Linked DNA regions of Homo sapiens. The protein of the gene in region 3 purifies or fractionates together with the protein of the main gene of each other region. This does not show direct contact. Each region holds a gene or a part of one and is shown on either strand. Other genes may lie near its edges.

Region 1 (4,290 bases), on a different chromosome or scaffold from region 3:
TATTCACTTGTTTAGAACTGTTACCTTTAATACTCTGAAGCTTGCAGGTAAGAAATCTGAGGCCTGATATTAATACCTGGCACAGAAATATCTACTGAAATCACTGAAACTGAAGTCTGTTACTGTTTCAAAAGTACCCCATAATGTTTCCAAGCTAACCAGTAAAATATTTTTGCTACAAACATTTTTACTTAAGTCTAGTAAGGTTAATGATCCTCTAAAACTAGACAAATGCTTTCTGAATCTTCCATTTAAAAACCATGTAACAGCCTGGAAATCTGTCAGGCCTCTTAATCCTAATTTTAGCCCAATTATCAGTCGCTTTAAAGAGCACCAAAATGTCAATACACAAGAAAACCACCACTATCTGGCTTAAAGATAGAATACAGACAACAGTCCAATTTCTGCTATACTGCATATTGCCAATAAACATTAACTACTTAAAACCATACACAATGGTTACCAAATAACAAATTAAACAAAAAAGACAAACTGCAAAGTCTTATCAAAAGTTTGTTTTATTTTCAATACAAGATAAATACCATGCTTGTTACTAGTGCAGTTTAAGGCCGACAATGGCCATATATCAAACTGCCGAACAGTCACCTAAATGCTAAAGAAAGGAAAGACAAAGTAAACATTAAACACAAAATTGCAATTACAAACATTTTAATAAAATGGAATGAGCTTTTTAATTGAAGCTAATATGAAGTCTAATTCTCATGGACAGCAAAAAAAAAAAAAAAAAAGTCTATTAGATCAATTATCACCTTACCTTTTTGCACAGAAATCTTATTGTGAAGTCACCATAGAGTCAATAGCTAAAATTTTAAGACTTTCTTTGGCCTTCTGATATTAAACAAATTATTTACAAACTGTGATCAGTAATTCGTGGATATTGGTAAAATGATACAATTTTTTGTTGTTGTTGTTAAGGGCTTTCCATTAAAAATTGTAAAACAACTTTGTAAGGCTGTACAGGGCTGTAAACTACTTTGCTAATATACCATGGGATGCAGAGGAAGGAATAATAGACCTTTTTTTTAAGGCTAAAGTTATCAATGTTATAGATGCATTCCTTAAAATACATTATGATTTATACCCAAAGGATCCTTTCCCATTAAATACCACCTGAGTACTACAATTTTCAAAGTAAAAAAATAAACATGAATTCACCATAGTTATTTTAAAATAATTTAACTTACAGAATGTTGAGAAGTGTTACGCAGTAACAGTGCGACAAAAAGAACACACTTTCAAAACAAAATGTTTTCGCTAAATGCAGGGTCTGTCCAATTATGAAATTAATGTAAAACATTTACACCCATGGCAGAGTTTTAGGATACTCCCACGTGAAAAAAACTCTTGGTAGTATTTACTATGCAGTTACCACTTCAAGATGTGTGTGACTTCAATTAAATTCAACCTAGTATTTAAAAGACTCCATTACAATATGTTAATACAGCAGGAAGTCTTTAAAGACATTAAAATCTGTCGTATATAATCAAGTATTTATACGTCCCATACAAAAACCATAGTAGCTGCATACTCAGTGAATGCCACAACCTGAAATTCTAAAAAAAGAACATTGGTTAAGACAAACCTAAATCAATCTGAACAGTGTTGCCTGAATATTTAGAATATTCACAAAAATTCATATTGCTTCTTTCTAATGCCAAGAAAGAAGAGTATAAGAACTTCCTCCCAGAAGCCTAGACATTTTAATACATTTTCTATTTCAACTTACAATGAAACTTTAATCCTGAATCTTGATTTATCTAAATCAAAAATCTCACATTACGAACACAAGGAATGCCATATGTAAGGCCACATCTTAATAAATTTATAATTTTTGGTTGAATATTTATTGAAAAAATCAGTCTAAGGCTTCTAAGAGTCAAGTTGCTTAAAAAAATAAATACACCAGTGTTTAAACTGAAGTTAAGGTTAAAAAAACGCATACACACACACACACACACACACACACACTGTAAGAACAGAAAAATAGAATGCTTTGCTACAAAAATCCCACTTAATATATTTTAGCACAAAAATGTCTAATATACACTGGATAAGCGTGCATTTACGTACATACAACTAGGGGAAACATTTACAGAGGGCTACGGGATGCAAATGAACTTAATGAGTAATAAAAACCAGTTGTTATCTGTAAAACAGAGAATCTCAATACTGTATTCTCAGTCAAGAATTAGAACATAAACTTCCTCTTAAGCTGAAGCTTAAAACACAAAATTGGAGCCATTTTAGAAAATACAGAAAATGCAATGATCATTCAGGTATGAAAACCAAAATGTCGAGAGCACTCCAACAGAAAAGTCTTGTAATGCATCTCATTGTATAAAACAGTATGTATTTAGATTGGCACAGTTAAATACATAAGGGAAAGAGAAAGTCTTTGCCCTTTCCACAATTTTCCTTCACTATAAAATATTATACAACATTCATTAAAACCTCCATGTTTATTTTAATAACTGACCTGAAACTAGTAAAAAATAAAGCAATATTCTCCACAGGAGAATTAAATGAAAATAGTATCTTAAGCTACAAGTTATCTGTGTATTCCAAATTGTCATTAACTGCTTAAGAACATTCTAGGTAAAAGGACCATTAAATGGGCTAAACTATGATCAAAAGCCACTGCAACTTACTCCAAACCTTATGAAAAGTGACAAAAAAAAAAAACACACATCTGCAAATTTACACTGGAATATGCTTTCCACAACATAGTTCCTTTAACCAAAAGCAGCACTTTCAATCCAAAGTGTTGCCTCAGAAGCAGTACCATTCAGGTACTGTATCACTCATCTGTTTAACTTTACTACTGGCTGAAAGGAATGTGACTGTATAGCACTAATAAATGCTATGTTTTAAAATTCAACTCGTTTGTTTTCACATCCACTACAGTTATTAACTAAGGAAAAAATGAAAAGGTCTCTGAGACACTGTTTTTGGTGTCTATGCAAGGATTTATCTCTTTGGATTGTTTTTACACATTAAAAAAAGGAAGAGTTTTCAAATAACATTAACCCATAAACAACTGAAGGGGGTATGAAGAACAAAACAAGGCCTGCAATTTTCACCTTTACTGCTATACATTCACGTGTTATCAGGTAGAGAAGGACTTTGCAAAATTACTTGGTCAAACCAAGAAGTTATTTCCTTCTGACAACACTTAAAATAACGGATTAGCAGCAAACAAATCTAGTACACTCACACTGTCTGTAACGAAAGTCATGTAATGAGATCAGCCAAGCAAGGAGAAGAGTGATATAGAAGGAGCAATTAAAAGGTTCCATTGATAAAATATGAAAAGGTAAATAAAGGATTTAATTAGTATAAAATTTCCAGTTTCATTTCAAGTGCAGTTAGATTTTTGTGATTCCATTTTTAAACTGTTCAAAGAAAATTTTATTTTCATGGACATTTTACTTACCTTTTAACCCTTTACTATTAACTAATTTCTCTTGTAATATTTATATGTCCATACTTCTTCGCATTAGGGCATTGTAGTCAAAATATTAAAAAGCCAAGAAATGACACAACAATATACAGAAAACAGGAAAATTTTGATACAACTCTAAAATAATGTTAAAAAAGCAACCGCATTTTCAACAAAATGCTTTAAAAAATCATTTCTGAAAGTGAACAGTTCTGATAAACATCAACGATCCCATGCACAGATACTTCAAACACAAAATATTTTAAAATAAAACTGGCAGTGATATGGGTAATTCAAAACAGCTAATTTTGTCAGAAGTGGTTTGATAGCAGACAAGATGAAAGTGAAGAACAGCAGTGGAAATTTCTGGAGGGTTTCTACAGTTGCACATAACACAGTATCTAGGGTATTTTAACACTTTAAGCATTGTCCTAGAATTTGGGTACTCTTTAACAACCAATGTGTATTAACAGAAGATCTCTCAAAGATAATCAGATCTTAAAAACATATTAACGTGCTCAAGAATTTTAAGTCAAATTTCTGAAGTAGTGATTTCAAATTACATTCCCATAAAAACACCTAATCAAGTTGACACCCTGCCTCTGCCAATTTTGCAATCAAGAACACATGCTAGTCAGGTGCTTTTAAAGTGGGCCTATATGTAAGGCAGGTTTGAAAAAAATCTTTGATTAAGTAACTATAGCATGAATCAATACGGTGCATGAATATACATAGTATTCCTTAAACTGTGCAGACACGGTTTATCTGTAATTTCCCATTACAAATACTGGGGAATACAACCGAATGTTAATGAACATCACATCCTTCAA
Region 2 (3,500 bases), on a different chromosome or scaffold from region 3:
TACAAAGTGAGAGACTTGAGTAAAAGCTGGAAAATTTACAACTCTGGAGAGAAGCACAACTGGGGAGACAGAAGCCTTTATAAGCCTTCTCTTATTCACAGTTGGTGTCTACACACAACAGGGTCCCACTGACCAGTACCGCTGCCTGCCTTAAAAAGCAGAAAGCTCACACTCACTCAAGTGCTCCAACTACTGAGTTTTCATCCTAGGAATACTCACAGCAACAATCTCTTGTTTCCTGGGATCAATGACTCTCACTTTCTTGTCTTTGGAAGCTGTGCAGATCAGACTGCCATTCCGGTTCCAGCTCACATTGTAAATCATGTCTGAATGCATATCGTCCAAGTTTATAAGGGCTTCCCCTGTTCCCACATTCCAGATGATAATGGCATTATCACAGCCTAAAACAGGCAAAACCATCAGAGATTAGAAGATTAGAAACACCTATGTAACACACTCAGAAAACTACAGATACAGTGAGAATACACATATGTATATGCAGAGAGAGAGAGAGAGAAAGAGAGAGAGAGAAAAGATGCGGCTGATTGTCAGAGGCCCTACCAGAGGCCCTACTTACTAACAGCGTTAAAAACTGAAGTGACAAAGGAAAAAGTTTGTATAAAAGAAATAAAAGTGTTAAAGTAAAAACACAACTTGTTAAGTTTGGGTTCATATGAAACAATCAACCAAACAAAAACAAAGAACCACACCAAAACAGAACCCTATTTTCTTTAAAGAGTTAACTGGGCTGGTAGACCCAAGTGACTTCAAGTTTCCCTTTCTAGTAAAACAAGCATCAGGGTGTTGCTGCCAGCTTTGGGAGACCCCTATTAGGCAAATACGCTCCTTCCTTTTAAAGAAAACTTTGATTTTCCCCTGCTATACAATTAGTACATGTATACTATAGAGAACATATATAAACAAAAGGAAAAAAAATCACTTTTAATCCCACCACTCAGAGAGAAGATCATTATTACTTTTTTGATGTTTCTTTCCGAAAGATATTTCTGTGCACATACATAAATTATTTTACATACAGAGATGGGTTCATACACTTTACACATGGGCTGCTTTCTGCACTTGGTGGTAGGCTGTGACCCTTTTCACGTGCCAAATAAACTAAAAGTAAAAGGTTTAAATGACTGTTTAGGGCACTCAACAAAAACTCTGGGTGGCAGGTTATTCAAATCAGTGAGACTCTAAGACACAGCTTTGGGATATTAAAGATGGTACAACAGTGGAAGGGAAAAGCCAAGAGTAAGGCCTGTTTGCTCACAACAGATCTGTACCTTTAAATGAAGAGAAAAATAGGCCAAGACTGCTCTGATCATGGTGAGAAGCCCAAACTGTAATCAAGTAGCTACATAGATTCAGAAACGGATTCTGAAAGAAGCCCACAATGTCAACTCATTCACCATCTCAGCTCACCAACTCCTTCCTTCCTTCAAGGGTCTGCCCCACGCCTCCAGGCCCCTTTAAAAAGAGGCAGCATGTGTTGCTCCTAGGATGTTAGTTCAAGGATGAAGCAAAATACGGGAAGGACATCCTAGAGGTGGATTCTTGCCAACAAAGCAATTTGGAAATCATTTAGAAAAAATAGTCACTAACATCCAGGATACTTAAGTTACCTAAGGGTTAGAAGTAGGAAACTGGCCGGGCACGGTGGCTCACGCCTGTAATCCCAGCACCCTGGGAGGCCGAGGCGGGCAGATCACCTGAGGTCAGGAGTTGGAGACCAGCCTGACCAACATGGAGAAACCCTGTCTCTACTAAAAATACAACATTAGCCAGGTGTGGTGGCACATGCCTGTAGTCCCAGCTACTTGGGAGGCTGAGGCAGGAGAATCGCTTGAACTCAGGAGGCGGAGGTTGCGGTGAGCTGAGATCATGCCATTGCACTCCAGCCTGAGCAACAAGAGCGAAACTCCATCTCAAAAAAAAAAAAAAAAAAAAAAGAAGTAGGAAACTGGAGAAAAAAACTACACAACAGTAACAAAAGTTGAAGCTAAACTCTGGGATGGACAATTGAACCTTCCTCTGCCTTCTTCCCTATAGGCAAACAGGTAACTTCAGCCCCGGCAGCTGGATCATATAGCCTAAAAATATGCAGAACACGACAATCACCCATTCTCCTTCACATGTAAAAGGGAGAATGCAGACCAGTCTGTTGCTGCTGCCCTGTATTGAGCCTTGATGAGAAAGGTAGCAGGGAATTTTCCATGAAGGAATTCCAGCTCTGGAATTTTTTTCCTCTCCTTAATCAGACTGAGGTTCTGAGAGAACATCAAAAATGATTCCCAAGTATAGTCGATGGTGATTATAAAAAACATGGCATCTTTTTTGAAAAGTGGGCCTTAGTTTCAATAGTTACTTGGCATTATAATTTTTTATTTAACTCACTATGAGTCATAAACATTGTGTATTCCCAGTTAAAAACTGAACTGCCCCTCCTCCTTTTTACTGGTGAGGGGAAAGACCTTTAAAAATCCTATCTCTAACATTAGTATCACTTTTTAAATAAACCACTTTTATTAAGGTATAACTTACATACAATACAATGCACCCATTTTAAGTATATATTTGCTAAGTTTCAACAAATGTATAAACTCATGTAGCCACTACTATGATCAAGATACAGAATATTTCCATCACCCCACAAAGTTCCCTCATGCTCTCTGTATTGCTTTCATAAAAGAAAATGAAATCTCCAATTTTAGATAAAGGAAAAGATTTCTGTACAACACCAGTGTCCAGAAATAGGGGACTTATCAAGTAAAATGAGGTATATCCAGAAAATGGATTAGTATGAAGTCATTAAAAATAGGAAGAGAGCTTAATGGCACGTGAAAAGGGTCACAGCCTACCACCAAGTGCAGAAAGCAGCCCATGTGTAAAGTGTATGAACCCATCTCTGTATGTAAAATAATTTATGTATGTGCACAGAAATATCTTTCGGAAAGAAACATCAAAAAAGTAATAATGATCTTCTCTCTGAGTGGTGGGATTAAAAGTGATTTTTTTTTCCTTTTGTTTATATATGTTCTCTACAGTATACATGTACTAATTGTATAGCAGGGGAAAATCAAAGTTTTCTTTAAAAGGAAGGAGTGTATTTGCCTAATAGGGGTCTCCCAAAGCTGGCAGCAACACCACAGAGGGAACACAGGGCTTCTGGCTCCCAACAAAGTACACCTTCTACCATATCAGAAATAACCAAAACTATGGTTCATGGAGGGCCCTGGCAGGAACCATGAAACCTGCTGAAATTATAGCAGGAAATTCATAGCTTTCCTCAGGTTGTCGAAATGGCCTTGAAACACACACACGTGCACACACACACAAGTATGTATGTGGGCTGGGGGAGCAGTGCACCCCAATACTCTTCACCATGGTTTCCTAATAATCTGCTTTAAAACCATATAGCACACAACCAAAACACATTTGCTTCCCCCCACTCAGAGAGCCACAAGAGTGGAAGACAAGGGGAGGACCGCTGAGCT
Region 3 (3,500 bases):
CAAGCAGTCCTCCTGCCTCGGCCACCCAAAGGGTTGGGATTACAGGCCTAAGCCACTGTGCCTGACCTTGAGGATACTCTTGAAGGTGATGGATATGTTCCTTATCTTGATTGTACTGATATTTTTTTAAGTAGATATTTTTGTCAAATTTATCAAATTGTACACTGTAAATATATGCAATTTGTCCTGTCAATTTTGCTCAATAAAGTCGTTAAAATATATCAGTTTATTCAATTTATTAGTAATCACCCTTATATCAAAGATTAGTGTTTTACTTATTACTATCACTCTACTTGGTGGCAATGGTCACTATTCACTATTTTCAAATACAATATTAAGGTTTTTTAAATTCAGGCATAGTAAATTGAGGTCTATTTTCAAAATATCTTTGAGGTTAAAGGAAGTAACTGCAGGCCAGGTGCGGTGGCTCATGCCTGTAATCCCAGCACTTTGGGAGGCCGAGGCTGATGGATCACCCCCGGTCAGGAGTTCGAGACCCGCCCGGCCAAGATGGTGACACCCTGTCTCTACTAAAAATACAAAAAAGTAGTCGGGCGTGGTGGCGGGTGCCTGTAATCCCAGCTACTCGGGAGGCTGAGGCAGAGAATTGCTTGAACCCAGGAGGCAGAGGTTGCCGTGAACCGAGATTGCGCCACTGCACTCCAGCCTGGGTGACAGAGTGAGAGTCCATCTCAAAAAAAAAAAAAAAAAAAAAAAAGAAGTAACTAAATTTTGAAATCATGTAAATTTGAGAATGTCTTCATGTAACCTTTGACTATGAATATGTTGCCTGAGTTTACCAAAAAAATAAATAAATAAATAAATAAATAAATAAAAAGGAGGAAGGTTGTCAGAACCATAGGGCAAGAACAAAGGTCACACACACAAGTAACATTTTGAGGTCCTAAATTCAACCAGTAGGTTTTAGAAATACCAACTTTTTTTGTTTTTTTGAGACAGGGTCTGGCTCTGTCACCCAGGCTGGAGTGGAGTGGAACAATCAGAGCTCACAGCAGCCTTGAACTCCTGGGCTCCAGAGATCTTCCCACCTCAGCCTCCCAAAGCACTGGGATTACAGATGTGAGCCACCACGCCTAGACTAAAATAAACATTTCTTGATCATATTTTTGGAGAAATTAGATATGCAAATCTAGTTAATATAAGATTAGAACTGTAAGAGAAGTCTTGAGCCTACTTAAAATCAGTTAATCAATATTTAATTTATTGTTGCAGACACATGTAACAGGATATCTGATGCTTCATACACTGTTCAATGCCTTTTAATTTTATGACTTGTATGATAGTTCTCGGCTATTCATTCTTGGGTTTTACTGAAGTTCCAAAAATCAAAGAGCTTTGATTCTTGTAATGGAAATATCTAGAGAAACTTGTGTTTAACTGACTCGGCAGAGATGAAGGCCAAATTCTCATATGTACCTATAACATTACTCAAATACTATTCTTAGTACAAAAAAGTTAAATATACTCTTATCTCTGAACATGAGCTATTCAGACCAAGGCCACTCAGGTCAGAGTAGAATACTCAAAAGCTGGCTTTAGCAGTCCCTTTCCTCCTAAAAAATGGATTATTGCTCTGAGGCCCAGGTATACTCAGCTTCATCCCTCCCAAGGCTATTCTGTCAAAATTCCACTTTTATTTCCACCCAGTCTACCTCTTTCTAGTCTTCAATTATCTGTTTACTCTAATGCCAGATCCAAATTTCTCAAGTTGAGGTAAAGAGAGACAAAATAAGACCATGTATACTAGAACAGGGAAAAATGAATTCATGGTTGTAGAGGATGTGAATCTAGATATGCATTTCCATTCAGTGCTACAGATTTAATATCTAGTAAAATGTTAGCCACATGGTGCTATATCATGTAATTTTTATGTCCTACTTCTCCTATGAAACATTTCTCATCATTCTTGATTTTCCTACAGTCTACTGGCCATATTGTAAATAATTTTTTTTTCTTTTCTTTTTTTTTTTTTTTTTTTTAGAGACAGGGTCTTGCACTCTCACCCAGGCTAGAGTGCAATGGTGCTATCATAGCTCACTGCAGCTTCCAACTCTTGGGCTCAAGCGACCCTCCCACCTCAGCCTCCCAAGTAGTTAGACTACAGATGCATGCAACCTCATGCCCCCTTAATTAAAAAAAAATTTTTTTTGTAGAGAGATGGGGTCTCACTATGCTGACCAGGCTGGTCTTGAACTCCTGGCCTCAAGTGATCCTCCTGCCTCGGCCTTCCAAAGTGCTGTGATTACAGGTGTGAGCCACCATGCCTGGGCAACATAGTAAGGCCCTGTCTCTAAAAAAAAAAAAATTTAAATATAAATTTAAAAATTAAAAAATTGGTTAAAGTTTACTGTAATTATACAGGTTGATAAAATAAACCACTAAATTACAGTCCTCTCTTTGCACTACTTATAATGGAGAAACAGCTCAAGTGTCCAACAAGAGAGTAAGGATGACCAGGCATGGTGGCTCACACCTATAATCCCAACACTTTGTGGGGCAGATGGGAGAATCACTTGAGGCCAGGAGTTCGAGACTAGCCTGGTCAACAGAGCAAGATCCCATCTCTACAAAAAATTAAAAAATTAGCTAGACATGGTGGCATGCATCTGTACCCCGAGCTACACCCGGAGGCTGAGGCAGAAGGATTGCTTGAGCCCAGGAGTTCAAGGCTGCAGTGAGCTATGGTCACACCACTGCACTCCATCCTGGGCAACAGAGCAAGATCCTATCTCTTAAAAAAAAAAAAAAAAGAGAGAGTAAGGCTGAGTGTACTAATTCCACATAATATTACTATTTAAGAAAGAAATGAGTAATATGGACACATTTTTATGAAACACTAAACATGAGGAAGAGAAAGGCCCAATATAGAACTCATTCACTGATGACAACTAGGTAAGAAGTCTGAATCTCTATAATGTATTTTTAGCAAATGTCAAATCAAATATACTAACAGTCATACTGATCATCCAAAGGAAGACCAGGAAAAAGAATGTTTTTCACCACACCGAGTTTAAAAACTGCTGGAGTAACCTAAATGAGAGTCCTTTTGAATTGCCAAAGCTTTTCTTTAGGTACAATACTTATTCAACTAGAGAAACTGAAGCTGTCCTAATGACAGGACAGCTTCAATTTATACAAATAAATTTTCTTGAATAGAAACACAAAGCTTTGGCCGGGCACGGTGGCGTGATCACACCTGTAATCCCAGCACTTTGGGAGGCCAAGGCGGGCAGATCACGAGGTAAAGAGATCGAGACCATCCTGGTTAACACGGTGTAACCCCGTCTCTACTAAAAATACAAAAAATTAGCTGGGCGTGATGGTGGGCGGCTGTAGTCCCAGCTACTCGGGAGGCTTAGGCAGGAGAATGGCGTGAACCCGGGAGGTGGAGCTTGCAGTGGGCCGAGATTGCACCACTGCACTCCAGCCTGGGTGGCAGAGTGAAACTCCATCTCAAAAAAAAAAAAAAAAAAAAAAAA
Region 4 (3,500 bases), on a different chromosome or scaffold from region 3:
GGTTTGACATTTTGGGGTCTTGCTAATCCCAGAGACTGCCCCTCCCAGGACTAGCTAACTCTGAGAGATGGTAAATGGCTTGCCTGGCTTGCCTATGACCACACCTTTGATATGTAAACCAATCAATCCAGAGCCATATTCTGAACCACCTCCTCTATTTGGCTTTAACCCTGCAAGAGGCAATTTTCCCCTGCCCTTATTATTCCAGGGCCAGGCATCAGACAACTACAACTATAGGCAGCTCATGAATCCTGGAGCACTCTAAAATTATTCAAACTAGCCAATCCCAAACCTAGCCAGCCCTTTCCCCTGCCTCACAATACAGTCTTTTGCCTGTTCTTTCCCCTCACTTTTTCTGCCCCTTCACCTACGCAGGTGCTTTCCCATATGGCCCCATGTGAGGTGTTATGCCTCCTGTTTCTAGGGAACTGTGAGTAAGAGCTTCTTCCTTCATGGCAGTCACCTCCTGATCTGTTGGCCTCACCATACTTGATTAAAACAAATCCCAGGTACGTTGTAATACATCTAGATTAAAATGCATGTGCCAACTATTCAGTCAGATGGAAGCTTTTACATGTTTAACACATTTTTGCTCGGCTTCTTCTCCTCACATATCCACTAAACTGTCAGGCGGCATCTTAAAAGCCAGGCGCGGTGGCTCATGCCTGTAATCCCAGCACTTTAGAAGGCCGAGGCAGGTGGATCACTTGAGGTCAGGAGTTTAAGACCAGCCTGGCCAACATGGTGAAACCCTGTCTCTGAAAAATACAAAAATTAGCCAGGCATGATGGCGGGTGCCTGTAATCCCAGCTACTCAGGAGGCTGAGGCAGGAGAAACGCTTGAACCTGGGAGGCAGAGGTTGCAGTGAGCCGAGATCGCGTCACTGCACTCCAGCCTGGGCACAACAGAGCAAGACTCCGTCTCAAAAAGGAGAAAAAAAAAATACGCCGTCTCTATGCCGTCTCTAAAATGCAATTTAATTACATAGTACCGAAGAATGTTACAATTTGTGGGTGATTGAGCTAAATTTTTATAAATTTTTGCAACTAAATAACATAGCTACAGTTTGAGTTTTTAAGGCAGTAACCGCTCTAGAAGAAGCAGCACGTGGCCTTCCTTTCCTTTGTCATATACTATCCTCCATTCTATTGAAACTTAAGATATCTTCTCCACCAAGAAAAATCTTCACATCTATTTTATCCATTTAACCTTGATAAAGGAGGGCATCAGCCAGAAGTGCTCAGAAAAGAAGGTGAGAAACAAGTTTTCTGCAGCATATAAGTCTATGTGCAAATTCAGGTTTATACCTACACTGAATTTGTCTCAATCACACAGGGGCTAAGTTTGCAGAACTGAAAATCAGGAAAGATAATCTAAGCTGAATTTTTATTAGGAGAATTTTTACCTGCGCAAATGATATACGATTAAATTACTTACATTTAGCTATGCTAAATATGTAAGTGTATCTTTGTGAAATAGACTTACATGAAATTCGCATGGTCACAATTCTGCTGCTGTTTAAGAATGTTTCCAGGCCAGGCATGGTGGCTCACGCCTGTAATCCCAACACTTTGGGAGGCTGAGGCAGGCGGATCATGAGGTCAGGAGATTGAGACCATCCTGGCTAACACAGTGAAACCCTATCTGTATTAAAAATACAAAAAATTAGCTGGGCGTGGTGGCACGCACCTGTAGTCCCAGCTACTTGGGAGACTGAAGCAGAAGAATTGCTTGAACCTGGGAGGCGGAGGCTGCAGTGAGCCGAGATCGCACCACTACACTCCAGCCTGGGTGACAGAGCAAGACTCCATCTCAAAAAGAAAAAAGAATGTGTCCACAAGTATTCATTGAGCGCCCACTGTATGTAAGGATGCAAGCTGAGAGACAGCAATTTCTCCAGGCCTGACCCCCTCCCACTCTTTTAGCTAGGGCATTGAGGCTTTACATGGGAAAACAAAGTTCTGGAAAGTGATCGCACAAAGGGGCAGCTTTGAGTAAGAGAATCTTCTGGTGTTGGAACAAATTAACCCTCCTGTTGGAGGAGAAACAAAACCAGTTTCACATGGGCTAATTTTGACAAATCAGTTAGGAGACTATTGGAGTGGTCCAGGTGTGAGCGATAAGCTCCTGAATTAGGTGTTAGCATTAGAAATGCAAACAAAGATTCAGATAAGATAGAGGCTGGGAAGAGAGAATAATTTCGGAAGACGTGGGAAAGGCTTCTGGAAGAAAAAAAAAAGTCAAAGTTGACATCTAGACAGCTGAAGAAAAAGGAATTATGTGAGCAGAAAAAGGGAAGTTATGTCAGGGACCTGTTCGGGCTACTTTTGGACAGTTGGGTTCAAGATTTTGAAAGGAGAATCACTTGCAATGAGAATCTCCTAACGGTGGATATAAAGGAGGGCAGTCTAGCGCTCTGGGAAGAGGGAGAAATGAGATTGGATAGGCATGTGTTACTAAAGTTTAGGTCTGAGAGCTTATTCCCAGACAATGGCAATTTGATCTAGGAGTCACAAAGCAGCAACCTGCAGGCCAAGTGCAGGCCAGAGCTGTGTTTTGCTTGGCTCACAGTGCTTTTCTTGAATTTTGAATTAGTCATCAACATTAAAAAATTTGGAGATCTCGACAAAAAATATTCCAGATTCTTGGCCTCTAACACTAAGCCCACATTCTCACATGGAAACTCTTGGCTGGAGCTGAGCAGTCATTGGTCTTCTCCACCATGCACAAGGTTTCAGTTCACTCCAGCCCCACTCAGCCTATGTTGTTCATTTGTTACCTGCTCAGCCCTGGTGTGCATTTCAGCCTGTGGTTACTGCTAATGGCAGTGAGAGCCCTTGGAAGGTCTTAATAAAACTGGATTTATAAAGAGTCCCCAGGGGAAGCTGAGAGGATGAACTGGAGCAATTCAGTTGAGTTCAGCATTTTTGATTGTTTACTAAATGCCAGGGATTGTGCTAGGCACTGCACAGCCAGTGATGGGTAAGAAGAGTCTGTCTGTTATAACAGGAAAGACCAGGAATATGAAGATCCATTAAGCGGCTGTTTCAGAAATTCAGGCACAGTGAGGGTGGGGTCTGAATGGGAACAGAGATGAGGGGTGTGAATGTGAGACACACATTGACATTTTTGCGACAATCAGCTATAGGGGATAAAGAAGAAGGAAGAATGTGAACGATGACATTATATCCACTTGTTCAGGTGAATATAATGAAGACAGGATGTGAGCAGCAATACTAGAATTACTCAAAGTGGAGTAAAGGTCCAAGGCACTGTGAGGGAGAAGGAAAGCACCCCCCTTGAAAACTGAATGAGTGTTGTTCCGAGAAAGGATAGCAGCTGTGCTCTTCCTCTTGGCACACCTCTGCTTGAGTAATGGCAGTGCTATTCTTGCCTTGTGTGTTCAGGAACTGGATTACTATACTGTTAACAAATAAAGAAAATGGAGCAATCTTCACTTAGCCCTGCAGGGCCATGTTGAAACTCTCCCTCTGGAGCT

Evidence for each region. The genes of interacting proteins can lie anywhere in the genome.
Region 1: the proteins of P4HA1 (region 3) and CPSF6 purify together in Homo sapiens (affinity purification with mass spectrometry; 2 studies listed by BioGRID and IntAct, with this or other methods). This does not show direct contact.
Region 2: the proteins of P4HA1 (region 3) and CORO1C fractionate together in Homo sapiens (co-fractionation; one large-scale study listed by BioGRID). This does not show direct contact.
Region 4: the proteins of P4HA1 (region 3) and SQOR fractionate together in Homo sapiens (co-fractionation; one large-scale study listed by BioGRID). This does not show direct contact.

The regions. Positions count from the first base shown.
Region 1 is NC_000012.12:69,270,569-69,274,858, reverse strand, and holds the end of CPSF6 (cleavage and polyadenylation specificity factor subunit 6), read right to left. Parts: 3' UTR 501-4,290; downstream 1-500. UniProt on the Homo sapiens protein: Component of the cleavage factor Im (CFIm) complex that functions as an activator of the pre-mRNA 3'-end cleavage and polyadenylation processing required for the maturation of pre-mRNA into functional mRNAs.
Region 2 is NC_000012.12:108,658,519-108,662,018, forward strand, and holds part of CORO1C (coronin-1C), read right to left. Parts: intron 402-3,500; coding exon 220-401; intron 1-219. UniProt on the Homo sapiens protein: Plays a role in directed cell migration by regulating the activation and subcellular location of RAC1. Increases the presence of activated RAC1 at the leading edge of migrating cells.
Region 3 is NC_000010.11:73,090,367-73,093,866, forward strand, and holds part of P4HA1 (prolyl 4-hydroxylase subunit alpha-1 isoform 2 precursor), read right to left. Parts: intron 1-3,500. UniProt on the Homo sapiens protein: Catalyzes the post-translational formation of 4-hydroxyproline in -Xaa-Pro-Gly- sequences in collagens and other proteins.
Region 4 is NC_000015.10:45,641,529-45,645,028, reverse strand, and holds part of SQOR (sulfide:quinone oxidoreductase, mitochondrial), read right to left. Parts: intron 1-3,500. UniProt on the Homo sapiens protein: Catalyzes the oxidation of hydrogen sulfide with the help of a quinone, such as ubiquinone-10, giving rise to thiosulfate and ultimately to sulfane (molecular sulfur) atoms.